2 separate regions of the Homo sapiens genome follow, and region 1 is linked to region 2. The links come from fine-mapping of genetic effects on gene expression. A gene starts in region 2. The other region holds a variant in brackets. All regions are shown on one strand. Distances are between the middles of the regions. Region 1 overlaps CARD8 (caspase recruitment domain family member 8). Region 2 holds the start of CARD8 (caspase recruitment domain family member 8).

Evidence for each region. PIP is the estimated chance that this variant, and not a neighbour inherited with it, causes the effect.
Region 1: its variant is fine-mapped to the expression of CARD8 in whole blood (TOPMed, PIP 0.93).

What each region holds. Positions count from the first base shown.
Region 1 is chr19:48,233,581-48,236,080 of GRCh38, reverse strand. It overlaps CARD8 (caspase recruitment domain family member 8), which reads left to right. Exons shown (of 14, transcript NM_001184900.3): 6 at 1,538-1,678. Among named protein-coding and RNA genes, the nearest start is that of CARD8-AS1, 21 kb to the left of the region's middle. The variant A/G (reference allele first, on the strand shown) is at 1,316.
Region 2 is chr19:48,254,113-48,257,145 of GRCh38, reverse strand. It overlaps CARD8 (caspase recruitment domain family member 8), which reads left to right and starts at 1,234. Exons shown (of 14, transcript NM_001184900.3): 1 at 1,234-1,354. CARD8-AS1 (CARD8 antisense RNA 1) reads right to left here and starts at 1,471. Exons shown (of 2, transcript NR_040599.1): 1 at 1,352-1,471; 2 at 1-795. RefSeq lists an enhancer at 1,126-1,365.

The sequences.
Region 1 (2,500 bases), 21 kb after region 2:
GTGTCCAGTGTGAAAGCCACTGGCCTCACATGGCTTTTTCTTTTTTTAACATACATACTTTAATCAGAATTGCTGAAAAAATATTCAGGATTTTTGCTCTTGTTGTTGATGTTTTTAACAGGCTTAATTTTCCAGCTGAAACCCGATTTTACATTGCAAACAAATGTTCTTTTTTTTTTTTAGACAAAAGTTGTCTTCAGTAATAATTCCTCAGTTATTTTCTTTCTTTTTTTTTGCTTTCCTTTTTTGTCAATGATTTTTTTCTACAGTTTGGTTTTGAACTTACTTCAAAATCTCTCAACAATTGCTTTCACAGATATTCAGCTGATGGAAGTGTTCACTGTTGTAACCTTTTGTGGAGAGTGATTTGGGAATATCTATCAAACAGTAATGCTCAGGCTGGGTGCGGTGGCTCATGACTGTAATCCCAGTGCTTTGGGATGCCAAGGTGGAAGGATTTCTTGGGGCCGGGAATTCAAGACCAGCCTGAGACCTCATCTCTATTCCCTGGAGTCCTCTTCAAAGCAGATTTTGTTGCCAGACGTCCTATGCCTATGTCCATTACCCAGAAAAATTCTTTTAGTTTCACGTGGCTGGGGAGGCCTCACCATCATGGCAGAAGTCAAAGGAGGAGCAAAGGCATGTCTTACATGGTGGCAGGCAAGAGCCACGTGTGGCTTTTGAGCACTTGAAATATGGCTACTTCAAAGGAGGAACTGATTTTCACATTTAACAATTTAAAACTAAATGTAAATAGGCAGGTGTGGCTAGTGGCTGTCATATTGGCCATTGAATATCTTGGCATAAAGGACACTCCATCACTCCTAACCTCAATCTTGATTCCTGCCAGCCATAGGAGGACAGCACCAAGCCTTCAAAAATGAAGAAGAGAAAAGGATCTAGCATAGGACTCTCATGTTCCATATCTGAATAAGGATCCTTGATGGGAAAAGAAAGTGTGTACAATATCCATAATTTTCTTTTTCTGTGAGCATTTTTGTTGCTTTATGCAACCCCTCTCACCATTTGCAGGCAGAAGGGAGAAGAGGAGATAACTGTTCCATGGGTTCTTATAAAACATGCCCAATCTCACTAATGCCCTGCAATCCCAATCATTTTAGGGTCCTATTCTCTCGGGCACCAATTATGGATGAAGGGAGACTACAAATTAGGAATCTCATCCTTTCCCTAAAATTCTTAGCAAGGTTATATAGGTCAACATACTTGTTGACCTATTATGAAACCAATGTTTGTGGCAAATGCTAGATGTTGAGAACTGACTGACGTCTGCTTCCTAGGATGGAAAGAGCAGCAT[A/G]TAGTGGGAAACAGAGAGCCAGTTAAATTTAACATAATGAGATGTAAGAAAGAGTCATGGGAGTCTGAGAGGTGAGATGGAGTCGTAGGGGCCTGAGGAATGACTTCCCTAAGATAAAATATTGAGTCTATGGCTATTAACATAAAATCTTCCTGCACAGCCTATGCTATCATCAGGCACCTACCTTATATTCATAGTAAAAATTCTGTTGTTGTTTTCCAGGGTATACAGGGAGCTACCCTGTGTTTCTGAGACCCTTTGTGACATCTCACATTTTTTCCAAGAAGATGATGAGACAGAGGCAGAGCCATTATTGTTCCGTGCTGTTCCTGAGTGTCAACTATCTGGGGGGGACATTCCCAGGTAAGAAAAGCTATTCCGTTGGAAAACTATTGGACGCTGTGTCTCAATATCACAGAGGAACATGAGAATTAGAGGAATTTGGGTGTTTTTCATCGAACTCAGGGGAGAATGAATGAGCTTATGCAATACTAGCAATGAATCCAGAAATTTTTGAAACAAACCTTAAGCAATGAGGTTTTCTTCCATGGAGGTGTCTAGAGAACCTATACACAAAAAGGCAATGAGCAATGCAATCGAAGACCAGTGGGTTATTGGTTAAGCTGTTACTCAATACATAAAACCAACCTAATTCTCTAGGAAACTGGCTGATGATGAGGCTGAAGGCCACAGTGGGGTCCTGAGGTTTAACACCGGGGAGGGGAGAATGCGTCTATTTGTAGGGTATGCCAATTTCCAAGGGTTGAATATCCCCATCATGGCAGATTTCAAACTACCAACGTGAAGCCCCTGATGAGGGAGTTGAAAGAACACATGCAGAAGTCTGTCATCCTGCTTTCACCACACAGATACAAGAGACATAAATAACCTCAAGGGCATAGACTGCTGAAAAGTGTAGAAAAATGACTGGAAATTGGTATGTTTTAATATGTATTACTTTTGTTTTTAATATGATTTATTTAAATGTTAGCTTGTATCATTTAATTTAGACTAATGGTTGTGTTGAACAACTTGGTTGCAAAAGCCCTGAAAATGGAACCGTCAGCTCTCATGATCTGGGATGCGCTGTCTGCAGTTCAGCGCTGGGTTCCTCCCACTTTCTAAACCCCTCCTCAGCAGGCAGACTCCAGCATGCACATGCACCAGGAAAGAGAATATAAAATG
Region 2 (3,033 bases):
TACAACTGTATATGTAATTGTAATATAATAATTATATACATAATAGTATATGTAATACAAGTATCCAACCAGGAAATTGATGTCAACGTATCTTACCATTACCTAATGTGCAGACCTTATTTGAATTTTGTCAATATTTCTCTTAACGTCCTCTTTCTTCTCCAAGATCGAATCGAGGATCTCACATTGCACTCAGTTGTTATGTCCTTAGATTCCTCCAGGCTGTGACCGTTTCTTATTCTTCCCTTGTCTTTTGTGATTGTGACACTTTTGCTGAGCATGGCCAATTATTTTACAGAATGTTTATCAATTTGGATTTCTTTGATGTTTTCTCACGATTAGGCTGAGGTCATGCATGTTTGTCTTCTGTGTTCAGTCAATATGCCCCATCCTTTTTCAAATATTTCTTCATGTTCTGGCGTCAGAATTTGTTCCAATGTTATCTTATATATTCCTGCCCCAGCCCTCGAAGTAACCATTTCTCCACAGATACTTCAAAATAGTATTTAGAAACCAAGGCCGGGCACAGTGGCTCACGCCTGTAATCCCAGCACTTTGGGAGGCCGAGGCGGGCTGATCTCGAGGTCAAGAGACGGAGACCATCCTGACCAACATGGTGAAACTCCGTCTTTACTAAAAATACAAAAAATTAGCCGAGCGTGGTGGCATGCACCTATAATTCCAGCTACTCGGGAGGCTGAGGCAAGAGAATCGCTTGAACCTGGGAGGCAGAGGTTGCAGTGAGCCGAGATTGCTCCATTACACTCCAGCCTGGGTGACAGACGGAGACTTCATCTCAAAAAAAAAAAAAAGTAATATTGATTAAAAATCAAATTGCATGAGAATGCATAGCAGGATACCAAGCAAATACAACTTTTAAATATTACAGAAAATGATATTTAAAATACAAACCAAATACATAAATCATGCAGGCGGATTAAGACGTTTCTGGATAGTGGTAACAGCTGAGAGTGGCTGGATGAATTCCAGAGAAATTTCATATATTGCTTCAATTTTATTTAAAATATACTATTACCTATGTCTTAGATATTTTATTTTAAATAATGAACAAGGATATTATAAACTCTGCAGAAGTAAGTGTAATCGTGTTTTTTTCCTGCCCACATTAAAGATGGCCCAGATGCTTGCACTGACCCCATTGACTGCCCACAGCCATCATGGCGACCGGAAGTCCTGAGAGCTTACTTCCCTCAGTTCTCAGAAAGCCCACCTCCTCTGCGAGCGTTATTTCAAAAGAAGTTGAGAACCAGAGAAACCGACCTAAGGGGATTCTCCCATTTGGCCCGTCCTACCCTAAAGTCACCACCTGCTGCTTTTCTGGAGCGCTTACCAGGTGAGTTTCAGGAGCCCTAGTGTACAGGAAGGAGAAACGGAGGCTTGTTGGTAGGACACCGCCAGGCTGCTCTGTGTTCTGTTCCTCTTAGTCAGCAAGGAAGGAGTACGACAAAGTGAGAAGTTCATATGAGCGTGTCAGAAGGGGAAATAGGGCCCCTCCCTTGTTAAAAACAAAACCCTCTGGAAGCTCGGCATCCTGTCATAACTTAAATTTATGACTTCAGTGACTTGGCTTGGACAGTCTTAATAATCTCTCTCACACTCAATTTGTTTTAATTTCTGTAATAATAATTTTTATACCAATGTTTATGTTGTTAATACTAATAATTTTACACTGTAACTGTATAACTTTAATTATTAGAAGTGTTAACCTAACTAACAAACATATGAAAGCTTCCTAAGGGAAACAATTTTTTTTTCTTTTTGAGATGGAGTCTCGCTCTGTGGCTAGGCTGGAGTACAGTGGCATGATCTTGGCTCACTGCAACCTCTGCCTCCCAGGTTCAAGCGATTCTCGTGCCTCAGTCTCCCAAGTAGCTGGGACTACAGGCGTGCACCACCACATCCAGCTAATTTTTTATTTTTTAGTAGAGACGGGGTTTCACCATGTTGGCCAGGATGGTCTCCGTCTCTTGACCTCGAGATCAGCCCGCCTTGGCCTCCCAAAGTGTTGGGATTACAGGCGTGAGCCACTGCGCCCAGCCGGAAACAATGTTTATTTGGGAATAGAGCATTGCAATTGGGAATAGACATGCCGTATTAAACTATGTGTATATTCAGGGAGATAAAGGAAGACAGAAATGGGGAGGATTGCATATTGTTTTAACAGAATTTTCCTTGGCTACAAAGATCAGTAACAAGGGTGACATTAGTCCTAGGTTGGACCAGCAGTTGCTGGGCAGCATTCCTTGCAGAAATATATATTTTTTTAAGGTTGTGAAGACCTTTATGTAAGGTTGTGGGTTTTGTAGAGTCTTTTTCATCTTCAGGCATGCAAGGATAAGAGCCCTCTCTTCATGGCCTTCCTGGCTCTATTTGTCAGGGTTATCTTAACATAAGTGACTCCATTTTGTTCTGACAACTTTCAGATTTCCCCTTGTGATCAAGAAGTTTCTCTGAAAGCACTCTCCTGCCTCAGCCTCCCGAGTAGCTGCGACTACAGGTGCCCACCACCACACCCAGCTAATTGTTTTTGTGTTTTTAGTAGAGACGGGGTTTCACTATGTTGGCCAGGCTGGTCTCGAACCCCTGACTTGTGATCTGCCCACTTCGGCCTCCCAAAGTGCTGGGATTACAGGGATGAGCCACCGCACCAGGCCTGCATTTCTTTTTTCAAAGAATTACTGTGGCATTTTTTCCAATGTCATTGTGTTCTGTGGTTCTTATCTAGTCTTCACATTTATTTACATAATGAACTTTCAATGATGGATTTCTACAGAATTTTTGTCACTAAGTGGTTGCCTAGAAGTATATATCCTAAGATTGAACATATTGAAATATGAGCTAACTTTTCTCATTCAATTATTGATTACTTAGTTAGTTTATTTATTATTTGGGGGATGGGATCTTGCAATGCTGCCCAGACCAGACTCAAACTCCTGGGCTCAAACTCCTACCTCAGCCTCCCAAGTAGGTGGGATTACAGGCATGTACTACTTCACCTGGCTCAATTATTTA